Linked DNA regions of Homo sapiens: region 2 is linked to region 1. The links come from fine-mapping of genetic effects on gene expression. Tissue or cell type: lung. Region 1 holds a variant in brackets; the other region holds the start of a gene. All regions are shown on one strand. Distances are from middle to middle.

Region 1 (8,337 bases):
TCTTCAATTGTATCTCCTGTCTCTGGGGTAAATGATCTAGTGACAGACACTTGTGGATAAATGATCTACAGATGAACACATGTGAGGTTTAAGTTTATATGTATAAAACACTTTGAAGGGAGTTATGAAAGATCATCTTACCACTCAGTATTCAAGAATTATGCTCTGTGCCTTTATCCAAACTTTCCATTACTTGTTCAGTTTTTTTTAAACAAACACCATTGTTTACAGATCCAGATTTGATTTCACAAAGAATTTATTTCATAATTTGAGACTAAAGTGCTTTTTATAATTTAATTATTTGTATTGCTACATTCAAGAAGTTTTTCCATCACTCTAACAGAAAAACACGTTTTTTAAAGTTTTAAAAACAAGAGAATCTTTAAAACTGGTTCAAAATAAAGGAACTACAGTATGTCCAAAGAATGTGAAATATATTTGTAATAAAAGACCTACTGTATTTCCAAAAGAATGTGAAATATAATTATTGTTTTATAATTTATCATTCTTTCGTAACAATTTTCATAACTATTTATATGATTACATGGTCTCCTTTCTAAAGGAAGTAAATGAGAAACCAGTATAAGAACCTCAGACCTACCCTACAAAAAATACTAAAGGGGGTTCTTCAGGGTGAAATTAAAGGAATCCAGATGGTGACTCAAATCCACATGCAGAAAAAAATGAGCACCTGTAAGGATAATTACATAGGTAAAACTAAAAGAATAAATCGATTTTTGTTTGTAATTTGGTTTTCTTCACCCTTTTTTTAATGTTTATTTTCAGTTCAGGGGTACATGTGCAGGTTTGTTAATATAGGTAAACTTGTGTCATGGAGGTTTGTTGTGCAGATTATTTCATCACGCAGGTATTAAGCCTAGTACCCATTAGTTATTTATCCTGATCCAACCCTCACCCTCCAAAAGGCTCCAGTGTGTATTGTTCCCCTCTATGTGTCCTTGTGTTCCCATCATTTAGCTCACACTTATGAGTGAGAACATGCAGTATTTGGTTTTCTGTTCCTGTGTTAGTTTGCTAAGGATGATGGCCTCCAGCTCCATTCATGCTCCTGCAAAGGACATAATCTTATTATTTTTTATGACTGTGTAGTAGTCCATGTACCACCGTGTATATGTACCACATTTTCTTTATCCAGTCTATCACTTATGGGCATTTAGGTTGATTCCATGTCTTCACTATTGTGAATAATACTGCAATAAACATACACATGCATGTGTCTTTATAATAGAATAATTTATATTCATTTGGGCATGTACCCAGTAATGGAATTTCTTGGTCAAATGGTATTTCTGTCTTTAGTACTTTGAGGCATCATCACGCTGCTTTCTACAATGGTTGAACTAATTTACATTCCCAACAACAGTGTATAAGTGTTCCTTTTTCTCCAAAACTTCGCCAGCATCTGTTATTTTTTGACTTTTTAATAATAAACATTCTGACTAGTGTCAGATGATATCTCATTGTTGTTTTGATTTGCATTTCTCTAATGATCAATGACGTTGAGGTTTTTTTCATATGATTGTATGTCTTCTTTTGAAAAGTATCTTTTCATGTCCTTTGCCCACTTTTTAATGGGGTTGTTTGTTTTTTTGCTTGTTAATTTGCTTAAGTTCCTTATAGATGCTGGATATTGGACCTTTGTCATATCCATGCATTACAAAACTTTCTTCAATTATGTAGGTTATCTGTTCACTCTGTTGATACTTTCCTTCGCTGTACAGAAGCTCTTTAATTTTATTAGATCCCATTTATCAATTTTTGCTTTTGTTGCAATTGCTTTTGGCATCTTCATCATGAAATCTTTGCCTGTTCCTATGTCCTGAATGTTATTGCCTAGATTGCCTTCCAGGGTTTTGATAGTTTTGGGTTTTACATTTCGGTCTTTAATCCATCTTGAGTTAATTTTTCTATAAATATAAATATATAAATATATATATATATGTATATATATATAATATATATATATATATATATATATATATATATAGTATATAGTGTAAGAAAGAGGTCTAGTTTCAATCTTGTGCATATGGCTAGCTAGTTATCATAGCACCATTTATTGAATAGGGAATTCTTTCTCCATTGCTTGTTTTTGTCTGGTTTGCCAAAGATCAGATGGCTGTAGTTGGGTGACCTTACTTCTGGGTTCTCTATTCTGTTCCATTGGTCTATGCAACTGTTTTTGTACCAGTACCAGTTGTTTTGGTCCTATAGCCCTGTAGTATAGTTTGAAGTCGGGTGGCATGATGCCTCCAGCTTTGATTTTTGTTTTCTGGGTTTTTCTGTTGTTGTTGTTGTTGTTTTTGTTTTTGTTTTCCTTAGGATTGCCTTGGCTATTTAGGCAGTTTTTTTGGTTCCATGTGAATTTTAAAATAGTTTTTTTTTCCCTAATTCTGTCAAGAATCTCAATGGTAGTTTAATAGGAATACCACTGAATCTATAAATGCTTTGAGCAGTATGGCCATTTTTACAATATTTACCCTTCTTTTCCATAAGCATGAAATATTTTTCCCTTTGTGTAATCTCTGATTTCTTTGAGCACTGTTTTGTAGTTCTCCTTGTAGAGATCTTCACCTCCCTTGTTAGCTGTATTCCTAGTTATTTTAATCTTTTTGTGGCAATTTTGAACGGGATTGTGTTCCTGATTTGGCTCTTGGCTTGACTGTTGTTGATATATAGGAATATTGGTGATTTTTGCAAATTGATTTTATATCCTGAGACTTTGCTGAAGTTGTTTATCAGTTTAAGAAACTTTTGAGCTGAAACTACGAAGTTTTCTAGATATAGAATCATGTTGTCTGCCAACAGGAATAGTTTGACTTTCCCTCTTCCTATTTGGATGACCTTTATTTCTTTCTCTTGCCTGATTGCCCTGGCCAGGACTTCCAATACTATGTTGAATATCAGTGGTGAAAGAGTGCATCCTTGTCTTGTGTCAGTTTTCAAGGCAATGCTGCCAGTTTTTGCCCATTCAGTATAATCTTAGCCATGGGCTAAGAATAGATGGCTCTTATTCTTTTCAGATATGTTCCTTCAATAGCTACTTTTTTGAGAATTTTTAACATGAAGTGGTGTTAAATTTTATCAAAAGACTTTTCTGGTTCCAAGATGGCCGAATAGGAACAGCTCCAGTCTACAGCTCCCAGCATGAGTGACACAGAAGACGGGTGATTTCTGCATTTCCAACTGAGATGCTGGGTTCATCTCACTGGGGCTTGTCGGACAGTGGGTGCAGCCCACGGAGTGTGAGCTGAAGCAGGGTGAGGCATCACCTCACCCGGGAAGTGCAAGGGGTCAGGAAATTCCCTTTCCTAGTCAAAGAAAGGGGTGACAGATGGCACCTGGAAACTCAGGACACTCCCACCCTAATACTGTGCTTTTCCAATGGTCTTAGCAAACGGCACACAAGGAGATTATATCCCACGCCTGGCACCGAGGGTCTCACACCCATGGAGCGTTGCTCACTGCTAGTGCAGCAGTCTGAGATCAAACTGCAAGGTGGCAGCGAGGCTAGGGGAGGGGCATCCACCATTGCTGAGGCTTGAGTAGGTAAACAAAGCAGCCAGGAAGCTCAAACTGGGTGGAGCCCACCGCAGCTCAAGGAGGCCTGCCTGCCTCTGTAGTCTCCACATCTGGGGGCAGGGCATAGCTGAACAAAAGGCAACAGAAACCACTGCAGACTTAAATGTCCCTGTCTGACAGCTTTGAAGAGAGTAGCAGTTCTCCCAGCACGCAGCTGGAGATCTGAGAACGGACAGACTGCCTCCTCAAGTAGGTCCCTGACCGCTGAGTAGCCTAACTGGGAGGCACCCTCCAGTAGGGGCAGACTGACACCCCACACAGCCTGGTACCCCTCTGAGATGAAGATTCCAGAGGAACGATCAGGCAGCAACATTTGCTGTTGAGCAATATTTGCTGTTCTGCAGGCTCTGCTGCTGATATCCAGGCAAACAGGGTCTGGAGTGGACCTCCAGCAAATTCCAACAGACCTGCAGCTAAGGGTGCTGACTGTTAGAAGGAAAAC[T/A]AACAAACAGAAAGGACATCCACACCAAAAACCCATCTGTACGTCACCGTCATCAAAGACCAAAGGTAGATAAACCACAAAGATGGGGAAAAACGAGCAGAAAAACTGGAAACTCTAAAAATCAGAGTGCCTCTCCTCCTCCAAAGGAATGCAGCTCCTCACCAGCAACGGAACAAAGCTGGATAGAGAATGACTTTGACGAGTTGAGAGAAGAAGGCTTCAGAAGATCAAACTACTCCGAGCTAAAGGAGAAAGTTTGAACCCATGGAAAAGAAGTTAAAAACCTTGAAAAAAGATTAGATGAATGGCTAACTAGAATAACCAATGCAGAGAAGTCCTTAAAGGACCTGATAGAGCTGAAAACCATGGCACGAGAACTACGTGATGAATGGACAAGCCTCAGTAGCCGATGCGATCAACTGGAAGAAAGGCTATCAGTGATGGAAGATGAAACGAATGAAATGAAGTGAGAAGAGAAGTTTAGAGAAAAAAGAATAAAAAGAAACAAACAAAACCTCCAAGAAATATGGGACTATGTGAAAAGACCAAATCTATGTCTGATTCGTGTACCTGAAAGTGAAGGGGAGAATGGAACCAAGTTGGAAAACACTCTGCAGGATATTATCCAGGAGAATTTCCCCAAACTAGCAAGGCAGGCCAACATTCAAATTCAGGAAATACAGAGAACACCACAAAGATACTCCTAGAGAAGAGCAACTCCAAGACACATAATCGTCAGATTCACCAAAGTTGAAATGAAGGAAAAAATGTTAAGGGCAGCCAGAGAGAAAGGTCGGATTACCCACAAAGGGAAGCCCATCACACTAACAGCTGATCTCTCGGCAGAAACTCTACAAACCAGAAGAGAGTGGGGGGCCAATATTCAACATTCTTAAAGAAAAGAATTTTCAACCCAGAATTTCATATCCAGCCAAACTGAGCTTCATAAGTGAAGGAGAAATAAAATACTTTAAAGACAAGAAAATGCTGAGAGATTTTGTCACCACCAGGCCTGCCCTAAAAGAGCTCCTGAAGGAAGCACTAAACATGGAAAGGAACAACTGATGCCAGCCACTGCAAAAACATGCCAAATTGTAAAGACCATCAAGGCTAGGAAGAAACTGCATCAACTAACGAGCAAAATAACCAGCTAACATCATAATGACAGGATCAAATTCACACATAACAATATTAACCTTAAATGTAAATGGGCTAAATGCTCCAATTAAAAGACAAATACTGGCAAATTGGATCAAGAGTCAAGACCCATCAGTGTGCTGTATTCGGGAAACCCATCACACGTGCAGAGACACACATAGGCTCAAAATAAAGGGATGGAGGAAGATCTACCAAGCAAATGGAAAACAAAAAAAAAGCAGGGATTGCAATCCGAGTCTCTGATAAACCAGACTTTAAACCAACAAAGAGCAAAAGAGACAAAGGCCATTACATAATGGTAAAGGGATCAATTCAACAAGAAGAGCTAACTATCCTAAATATATATGCACCCAATACAGGAGCATGCAGATTCATAAAGCAAGTCCTTAGTAACCTACAAAGAGACTTAGACTCCCACACAATAATAATGAGAGACTTTAACACCCCACTGTCAACATTAGACAGATCAATGAGACAGAAAGTTAACAAGGATATCCAGGAATTGAACTCAGCTCTGCACCAAGAGGACCTAATGGACATCTACAGAACTCTCCACCCCAAATCAACAGAATATGCATTCTTTTCAGCACCACACCACACCTATTCCAAAATTGACCACATACTTGGAAGTAAAGCACTCCTCAGAAAATGTAAAAGAACAGAAATTATAACAAACTGTCTCTCAGATCACAGTGCAATCAAACTAGAACTCAGGATTAAGAAACTCACTCAAAACCACTCAACTACATGGAAACTGAACAACCTGCTCCTGAATGACTACTGGGTACATAACGAAATGAAGGCAGAAATAAAGAAGTTCTTTGAAACCAATGAGAACAAAGACACAACATACCAGAATCTCTGGGACACATTCAAAGCAGTGTATAGAGGGACATTTATAGCACTAAATACCCACAAGAGAAAGCAGGAAAGATCTAAAATTGACACCCTAACATCACAATTAAAAGAACTAGAGAAGCAAGAGCAAACACATTCAAAAGCTAGCAGAAGGCAAGAAATAACTAAGATCAGAGCAGAACTGAAGGAAATAGAGACACAACAAACCCTTCAAAAAATCAATGAATACAGGAGCTGGTTTTGTGAAAAAATCAACAAAATTGATAGACCGCTAGCAAGACTAATAAAGAAGAAAAGACAGAAGAATCAAATAGATGCAATAAAAAATGATAAAGGGGATATCACCACCGATCCCACAGAAATACAAACTACCATCAGAGAATACTATAAACATGTCTATGCAAATAAACTAGAAAATCTAGAAGAAATGGATAAATTCCTCAACACATACACCCTCCCAAGACAAAACCAGGAAGAAGTTGAATCTCTGAATAGACCAATAACAGGCTCTGAAAATGAGGCAATAATTAGTAGCTTACCAACCAAAAAAAGTCCAGGACCAGATGGATTCACAGCCGAATTCTACCAGAGGTACAAGGAGGAGCTGGGACCATTCCTTCTGAAACTGTTCCAATCAATAGAAAAAGAAGAAATCCTCCCTAACTCATTTTATGAGGCCAGCATCATCCTGATACCAAAGCCTGGCAGAGACACAACAAAAAAAAGAGAATTTTAGACCAATATCATTGATGAACATCGATGCAAAAATCCTCAATAAAATACTGGCAAACAAAATCCAGCAGCACATCAAAAAGCTTATCCACCATGATCAAGTGGGCTTCATCCCTGGGATGCAAGGCTGGTTCAACATACGAAAATCAATAAACGTAATCCAGCATATAAACAGAACCAAAGACAAAAACCACATGATTATCTCAATAGATGCAGAAAAGGCCTTTGACAACCCTTCATGCTAAAAACTCTCAATAAATTAGGTATGGATGGGACGTATCTCAAAATAATAAGAGCTATCTATGACAAACCCACAGCCAATATCATACTGAATGGACAAAAACTGGAAGCATTCCCTTTGAAAAGTGGCACAAGAGAGGCATGCCCTCTCTCACTACTCCTATTCAACATAGTGTTGGAAGTTCTGGCCAGGGCAATCAGGCAAGAGAAAGAAATAAAGGGTATTCAATCAGGAAAAGAGGAAGTCAAATTGTCCCTGTTTGTAGATGACATGATTGTATATTTAGAAAACCCCATTGTCTCAGCTCAAAATCTCCTTAAGCTGATAAGCAACTTCAGCAAAGCCTCAGGATACAAAATCCACGTGCAAAAATCACAAGCATTCTTATACACCAATTACAGACAAACAGAGAGCCAAATCATGAGGGAACTCCCATCACAATTGCTTCAAAGACAATAAAATACCTAGGAATCCAACTTACAAGGGATGTGAAGGACCTCTTTAAGGAGAACTACAAACCACTGCTCAACGAAATAAAAGAGGACATAAACAAACGGAAGAACATTCCATGCTCATGGATGGGAAGAATCAATATCATGAAAATGGCCATACTGCCCAAGGTAATTTATAGATTCAATGCCATCCCCATCAAGCTACCAATGACTTTCTTCACAGAATTGGAAAAAACTACTTTAAAATTCATATGGAACCAAAAAAGAGACCTCATTGCCAATCCTAAGCAAAAAGAACAAAGCTGGAGGCATCACGCGATCTGACTTCAAACTATACTACAAGGCTACAGTAGCCAAAACAGCATGGTACCGGTACCAAAACAGAGATATAGACCAATAGAACAGAACAGAGCCCTCAGAAATAATACCATACATCTATGACTGTCTGATGTTTGACAAACCTGACAAAAACAAGAAATGGGGAAAGGATTCCCTGTTTAATAAATGGTGCTGGGAAAACTGGCTAGCCATATGTAGAAGGCTGAAACTGGATCCCTTCCTTACACATTATACGAAAATTAATTCAAAATGAATTAAAGACTTAAATGTTAGACCTAAAACCATAAAAACCCTAGAAGAAAACCTAGGCAATACCATTCAGGACATAGGCATGGCCAAGGACTTCATGACTAAAACACCAAAAGCAATGGCAACAAAAGCCAAAATTGACAAATGGGATCTAATTAAACTGAAGAGCTTCTGCACAGCAAAAGAAACTACCATCAGAGTGAACAGGCAACCTACAGAATGGGAGAAAATTTTTACAATCTATCTATCTGACAAAGGGCTGA
Region 2 (8,337 bases), 150 kb before region 1:
CTGTCAATAGCAACTGGTTTCAGCCTCCAATCTTCTTCCCGCACTGACATCATCAGCTTCATTTCATCATCTCAGGTTATCAACACCCGCTAGGCAGCAACCCTATCTACACAGCTCTACAAGGGCTCTCCAACAAGCATCTAGGTTCTATTAACCCCAACTCTTCCCTCGTCCTCAATCCCTAGGGATGGGAGTGGCTTCCTGCAGTAGTGTTCCCCTTTTGCCTTTTCAGTTCCCTGACACCTATTTAACTAATTCCTCATATGTAATTTGCACTGTGAAAATAGCTAGCATGGTTTATTTCTGACAAAGGCCCCTGATTGAAAACCATCTCATTCCGAATTAAGAGTCTAAATCCATAACATACCTTATAAGATCCCATGCAATGTGGACCCTGGCTATTTCTCTGCCCTTGTTTCTTGTATCTGCCCAAATATTGCCCCAGTAAACACTTTTCCTGACAATGTATACAAAATTATTATTTCTCCCAACCCCTGCAATCTTTCCCCATGCTCCCTTTTCTCTGCAGCATTCCTCCCCATCTGGTATACTCTATATCGTTACCCGTCTTCCCCATTACAATATGAGTTCCATGAAAAAAGTTTTGTTCACTGCTGTGTTCCTAGGGTCCAGAGCAGGCTCTGGCACACAGTAGGTGCTGACTTTTGAAAGAAAGACTAACTGTAGAAAAAATCCTAGAAGCAGCCCTACCATTGTGTCCATTTACCTGAATTATAACCAATCTTTAATTTTTAAAGGCTGTGTATTTATTGCCTCGCTTTGCTGGCCGTCCTTCCTCTGTGGAATCACACTTTAGTAGAAAGGTCAGCTGCACTTCCTTAGTGATGGTGCACTTTAAATTGTGTGCTTTCTTCTATTTCAAAATTTACTTTTTGAGACAGGGTCTTGTTCTGTCACCCAGGCTGGAGTGCAGTGCAATCATAGCTCACTGCATGCAGCCTTGATCTCCTGGGCTCAAGTGATCCCCCCACCTCAGCTTCCCAAGTGGTTGGGACTACAGGTGTGCTCCACCATGCCCGGATAATTTTTCTAATTTTTTTAGAGATGGAGTCTCACTATGTTGCCCAGGTTGGTCTCGAACTCTGGGGCTCAATCAATCCTCCTACCTTGGACTCCCCAGTTGCTGGGATTACAGGGGCAAGCCACTGTGCCTGGCCCAATTTAAAGTTTTTATAATGCAAATATGAGCTCCATTTTAAACCTTTAAAAATTATCAACTCAATCAAGATCAGCCACTCAGCAGCATTTATTGAGAGGCCGGTTGCTCTACTATGAGTCTAAACTAAACTATGTTGGCGTCTCCAAAGAAGGAAATGCAATTCCTGCCCTTCTGGAGATTATAATCTCATGAATATTCAACTTGCACATATAAAAACATCTCAGGTATTTACCAATGATGCACAAAAGAAAATAAATAAAATGTATCTATATGCTTTTTAGATGAAGTGCAATGCTTGAAAGGCCATTCAAACTAGAATAATTCTTAGAAGAGGTTGCTGTTAAGCCAGAATTTAAAGAAAGAGACAAAGATGGATAAGTATAAGGTAGGAAAGAAAGAGCACTTGCAAAAACAAAAGGAAATGACAAATACATGGCACTAACTTAATTAGTTACCTGGAGTGTATAAACTAAAAATCTACGAATTTGGCCTCTAGCCTTTCCATTCTGAGTTATCTATTCTGCACTTCTCCTCAAATGTATCAAATTATATTCTGAACTCAAAAGATCCTATACTTTAAACAGTGGTTGGAGTCACTTCGTACTCCTTCCAAGTCATCCTAAGTCTCAACTGAAATGTCATTTTCCCAGAGAAGTTTTTTCCAGTCACTTAATCTGAAATAGGTGTGCTTTGTTATTCTGTACCTTAGCATTTCTTTCATACCTTTTACCACAATTTATAACTGTAATTTTATTTGTGACCTTATCATTTGTCTTCTATACTAGATTATTAACTACCTAGAAGCAGGGTGTTTGCATTATTTTTCAGTACTATATACATACTGTTTAGCACGGTGCCTGACACTTAATATATATTTGTTGAAATGGAATTAAATAGTACATATTTCTGTGAAGGCCAGAAATCCATACATAAAACTGATTCCAAAACTCAAAATAATTTTATTTCAAACACTTAACAAAGTTAAATTGTCCTCACTTCTGATACACAAAAATGTATATTCATATAACTCTCTTGATATATACATATACATACAAACATAATTCACATACATGGTAATATTCTGACCTTTACCTCTGAAATTAATTTCAATTTGTGTCATATATTTCATTTTTTACAATAAACTAAATACGTTCATAAAAATAATTAATTCTTCTAAAGTAGGGAATATAACCCTGGATAGGACCAGGGTATGAGGGTGGGATGGTCCGAGCTGGTGCCAGCTCATACAAGATGCATTGGTGCACATTTTAAAAAGGACCCACATCCTCTGGGTAGACACAGACACACAACAACATAAGCTCTGCTTGGTGAATGGAGCCTGGGCAGGACTTCAGCTCCCACTTTATGTGCTCTTGCACAGGGCATGACCTATGCATAGGTGGCAGTCCTGGAGAGGGTTGCTCAGTGGTGGTGTGAGCAGAAGATGTGATCTAGCCACCCTTGGGCTGTTCCACTCCTTGCTGGAAAGGGCCGATTTGATTTGTCTGGATTATTTTGGTCAACAAGGGGTCCCTTCTTCTTTTCACCACTCTGTCGGTTTAGCTGAAGAGGAAGACCTCTCCAATGAAAGAGGACCATTTTTCACGTTCAAGTGTATGCATGGCTATCCTCTGCTTCTTCAGCCTCCAAGGGGGCTTTTAAGGTTTAATCTAAAGAAATAACCCTGTATTGATTCTTGATTCCTAAGAAATTATGCTGTCAGTCTGGTTGTAGGCAAGGGTTGCAATTTTCCCTCTGGAAAAAACAAATCAGAAGTTAGTCCATTTGTATAACACTGCTTAGTAACTGTTTAGAAATTATATCAGTAACACTAAGAATAAGCTCAAGCTATCTCCTAAGTGACCCAATTTATTGACTTTCAGGACAAACAGTATATGAAATCAATTCTAATTTCCATATATCAAGAAATAACAAGCATGTCTTATTTCAGTAATCTTTTATAAACTTTCTATATCTTAGGGTCGTAGGTTATAACAGATGCATAGTATTTTAAAACCAAAATAAATTTACCTTTAAGTGGCCTTAGTATAAGCCATAAGAAAGGCCTGTTTCAAAACTACTAACAGGAATTTATCAGAGTAGGAGCTCAAACTACTGAAATACGATTTTAGAAGGACTTTTATTTTGGAAAAAGAATATAAAACTGGAATTTGGGAAGAAAGGGTTAGATAGTGGAAAGCACCCCAGATTGGATCCGAGTCCTTATTCTCAAACTACCTAATGAGATGAAATTGTGCAAGTGATTTAAATTTGATGAGATTCATCTGGAGATCTATTAATGAGTTTAAAGTCTTAAAGTGCTTACTGCTTTCTGATTAATTTTATATTAAAAGTCCTCAAAGCAGAAAGAATGTCAGATAAAAAAAAGTATGTGAGATCCAAAGTGGACTTACAATCACATGCATGAAGAAGTCATGTGTATACAACAGCCCCTGGGGAAAATGTTAAATATGTCATGGGGGCTCTACATTTAGCTGAGGACTGGGCCAAACATCCTAGCAGATTCTTTTCAGTTATTCTGATGTGTCATCTCTTTGGGGAAAAACCTAACTTCACTAATATCCAGGCTCAGGAAGTGAAAAAGACAGAAGCCTTACCTAGCCACTGTGACCAGAAGTGATTAATTTAATCAACTGCCCACCTCAACCATCACCAACTTTTGCAATCACTTGGCGAAATCAATGTCCAACAAGTGAAGCAAACCCAAATGTGGTGAACATTCCTCCATTGCCAAAATGGGACAACTGCCTTATCTCCTCATCAAAGCCCATCTTCTGGGAAATCAGCTTCTCTGTTAAATACCCAAGTGGGCTAGAAGCGCATTTTGTGGGCAACCCTATAGAAGCTCGTCCTGATGCCAACTTGCAGGGATCCAGTAAACCTCAAGTCACCGCTCCTGATAACGTAGACATCTTTTTAGACACACTATTTACACAGACTTTGTCTAGCTGGGGAAAAGGTTAATTTACTTGTATACACGGGGATAAGTAGAGCACAGCGCTTCTGGATGCCCTCAGACTTGCATCTAATTCTTTCTCCAGATCTAACGCCTCTGTTTCTACACCCAGGGGAACCTCTCCCCAGGGACTGCGCGCGCGTGCGTGCAGGTGTGTGTGTGTGTGTGTGTGTGTGTGTGTTTGTGTGTGTTAAAACGAACACTAATTCCGCGCCCAGCTTCTCTCTCCGTCCACCTGCGGCCCAAGAACTTGTGTTCCCAGATGGTACCAGCGGGGCCCGGCTTATTCCCGAACACATGTGGGGACCTGAAAGGGGCGTCGGGGACTAACCCGCCCAAACCGTGGCAAACACTCTGGGAGGCCGACTTGGGCTTGGCCTGTGGCCCGACACACCGCCCCACTCCGCGCACACGCGTCTGTGCCACTTCAGTGGCTTGCAGGACCTCCGGCGAGGATGAGTCTCCAAACCATCTCAGCCTACTCAACGGCATCTGGGATGTCCCCCTGCCTCTAAGTCAGACCCCAAGAAAGATCTTTGAGGACTTGAGCTTCACGTTGAAAATCAGTGTGGAAAATGGGGGTGTCAGTGCGGCTGGGGGAGACAAAGGGGCCCAAAAGCTCCCTCCCGTCCGCTCCAGCCCACTTAGTTCACCCTCCCACGGGGCGAGGGGCGGGCCGGGGGGCTGAGGTGGGGATGGCCCTGGAAGGGGTCCCTCCCTTCCCACCTCCTACGGCCCACTCTTACTTACTTTCTTTCGGAGCCTCAGCTTGGCCGCCTTTAGCCCAGGCAGTGCGGAGGGGAAGCGGGGAGGAGAGAGGAGCCTGCGGGCTGCAGCAGCCGGGCAGTCCCGGAATCTCCGGACTGCGTCCCTGCCCCAAGCCCGCCGGGAACCCGGGCCGTGGACGCCCCCACCCGGGGGCCGCGGCGAGGCGGGCGCGCGGGGTTCAGCACCCTCGAGGCTGGTTCCGAAGGCTCGCGGCCCTCCCCCTCCGTCCGCCGCCGTCGCGGCTAGCCGCCCCTCCCCGCCGCAGCAGGGAGGCCGCCGGGGCCCGGGGGACGCGCTCGCGCGGGGGCCGCCCCCTCCCCTTCCCTCCACCCTGGGCGGGGGCGCGCGAGAAGCGGTGACGTCAAGGGGCGCGCTGTGGCAGCACCTCCCCGCGCGCTAGTTAAAAAGAAGAAGAAAAGAGGGAACGAAACATGAGAGGCTGTGTGAGAAGCTGCAGCCGCCGGCAGAGGAGACCTCAGCATCATCTAGAGCCCAGCGCTGGCCCTGCCTCCGCCTGCCCCGCCGCCGCCGTCGCCGTTTCTGTTCCTGCTACTGTCCCACCTAAACAACTCCCGTTACACGGACAAGTGAACATCTGTGGCTGTCCTCTCCTTTTCTTCCTCCTCTTCCAACTCCTTCTCCTCCTCCCACTTCCCAGCCGCAGCAGAAAGCCCCCAACCCAACTGACACTGGCACAACTGCAAACGGTGTCATCCGCACAACTTTATCTCGCTCCTCGGGCTCCCCTAAGGCATTGGACCCATCGCCGCGTCTTTTATTTTTTGCAAAGTTGCATCGCTGTACATATTTTTGTCCCCGCCACCTCCCTCTGTCTCTGGAGTGCCCTACAGCCCCGCAAACTCCTCCTGGAGCTGCGCCCTAGTGCCCCTGCTGGGCAGTGGCGTTCCCCCCCATCCTCCCGCGCCCAGCCCCTGCTGCTCTGGGCAGACGATGCTGAAGATGCTCTCCTTTAAGCTGCTGCTGCTGGCCGTGGCTCTGGGCTTCTTTGAAGGAGATGCTAAGTTTGGGGAAAGAAACGAAGGGAGCGGAGCAAGGAGGAGAAGGTGCCTGAATGGGAACCCCCCGAAGCGCCTGAAAAGGAGAGACAGGAGGATGATGTCCCAGCTGGAGCTGCTGAGTGGGGGAGAGATGCTGTGCGGTGGCTTCTACCCTCGGCTGTCCTGCTGCCTGCGGAGTGACAGCCCGGGGCTAGGGCGCCTGGAGAATAAGGTAGGCACTCACCGGCTTCACGGATGCGTACTTGGCATATTGGCTGGGTGGGGTTCCCTGTGGCTCTGGCAAAGCCGGTGGTTGTAAGAAGGTCAAAACTTCTTTGGGGGAGTTCTTTCCATAACTTTTCTATAGCGCTAACGTGATTCCGTTGTGTGTTCCTCTGGGGTAAGCAAGTAGCATTTCCTCCCCCAGAGTCCGCGGTCGGGATGCTGTGCAAACTTGCCTATCTCTGAAAACAGACGTTTCTGCGGTACCCGCACCCTGGGCTGGGTAAATATTTTAAAAGAATCGCGATGAACAGTGTGTTTTGGATCGAATGGGGCATTGGCTGCGGTGAAACTGTAAATTAAGGTGGCTGTGGTTTCCGGCTTATTTTTCTAGGGTAAAAAGATTTGTGCTGTTTTCTCCACGTGCTCGGTTAGGGAGAGGATTGAATCGTAAAGGATGTTGAAGCATGGTTGGTTTATGATCCCCAGCCCCGTCAGAGGGGGGTGTCTTGCATTACATTAGTTAAACCAACAGAAAGGAACTCCTGGTCCTCCGGTTAGGGACCTGAAAAAAACTGGCGAAAGATTTTGCTGGGGCGTTATTTATCACATAAAACTGAGACGATTCTCCGTCATTTTGTAACATTATAAATTCAGACTTTCAGGGTCAGTTGGTGTCTTGGAAGATCTACTCTAAGAATTTGTTTTAAGAGTAATGGCATTTACGTTATCCTTGTGTTAATAAGTTTAAATACTAACATGGTGTTTGTTGACTGTAAAGGCACGCTTGTTTTTGAGTTTGCAATATCGTTCTTGCCAGGAGATGCAGTCATGGGTGGTATCTACTGTACTCCAAGGAATCATTGCTGGCTCACATCATTAACAATCACTGCACGTGAAATAAACAATCAGGTGTCTTTGCTCCCCCTCCCTTTCCCCATTTTAGGTTTAATTAAGAATTCCTCTGTTAGAACACTGCCAGTTGTCAAGGTCTGAGAGACTCTTGGAAAACTTGTGCTTCAGTCTTGCTGGCCCAGGCATAATAAAAAAAAAAAATACCCAGGCTGAATCTAATTTTTATGCTCAGTTCACGGTAGATTTCACTCTATTCTCATGTAAACAGCTCCTACGAATCAACATATGTGTCTGGGTGGTATCTCTCACTTTGTTTTGTAACAAAAAGCCATATTGCATCATTTAATTTGCTCAAGTCATGCAAATAGGAAAAAATCAATAGGACAAAAAGGGGTCGACTTATCCTCCTCCCCACTAAACTGCTGCCCACACACAGAGTCCTGTTGCTTATGGCAAAAGAATAACAACAACACCATTGTATTTGTTAGTTGGTTCACTAATGGGTGAAACTAGAGAACATCATTCTCTTTCAGTCCCCAGCTCTGTCCAAATGTTCATGCCTTTTGAGGGAGCATTTGTCCAACTCCTTCTATTCCCAGATGAGTGAGAACTGTCTTGCTGCAGGTTTTCAGCTGCAACTCTCTTTTTATTCTTACCATATGCAGCAGGAGCCTGAGATTCAGGGAACAGATATTCCAGGATTTTATTCAAAGCAATGTCTTTAAGCTCCTGTGTTGCAACTGAATTAAGTTTCAAAATAGCTATATTCAGGTCACCTTAAAGGTTTTATCAGGAGCCCTAAAGAACCAGGAAATTCAGAGAAAAGTTTAGAAATATTTGCCATTAAGTCTCCCTTGGTGCAATACGTACTATGAATATACTGATGATCTAGAGACCCCTGCAATACTCAACTCTTCCAGAGACATGTGGAATGAAAATTTTGTTCTTGACTAAATGGTGAGGAGAAGGGGAAGGGGGATGGGACCAAGGGGAGTTATAGCCCTTAAGAGAAGTTATATAAAAATTTTTTTAAAGAAATCATTCTTTAGGAAGCAATCTGCCATGTTAACTATATACATTCCTTTCTGTTTTATGTGCTTCCAATCTCCAACAAACCCCTACTCATTTGGAAAGTGTGTCTGAATTAAGTTTGGTACACTAGACTTTTGCTGGTTCTATTACAAGAGGTTTATAAATCAACAATACCCAAATTGTTCAAAACAGAGATTTGCTATAGCTATGCATATGCATTCTTGACCTATGTTAGTTTTCAAGTTTTAATAGTTTTTAAAACATGTTATTTTATAATAAACTTCAGTGTTTCCCTTTTTCCCGTA

Evidence for each region. PIP is the estimated chance that this variant, and not a neighbour inherited with it, causes the effect.
Region 2: HHIP-AS1 starts here. The variant in region 1 is the best candidate, but not a certain one, in a credible set for the expression of HHIP-AS1 in lung (TOPMed, PIP 0.61).

Annotation. Positions count from the first base shown.
Region 1 is chr4:144,788,495-144,796,831 of GRCh38, forward strand. No RefSeq gene overlaps it. Among named protein-coding and RNA genes, the nearest start is that of HHIP, 150 kb to the left of the region's middle. The variant T/A (reference allele first, on the strand shown) is at 4,046.
Region 2 is chr4:144,640,800-144,649,136 of GRCh38, forward strand. It overlaps HHIP-AS1 (HHIP antisense RNA 1), which reads right to left and starts at 5,220. Exons shown (of 2, transcript NR_037595.1): 1 at 4,908-5,220; 2 at 2,117-2,935. It overlaps HHIP (hedgehog interacting protein), which reads left to right and starts at 5,357. Exons shown (of 13, transcript NM_022475.3): 1 at 5,357-6,155. The coding sequence starts at 5,877. RefSeq lists enhancers at 5,322-5,887, 7,128-7,716.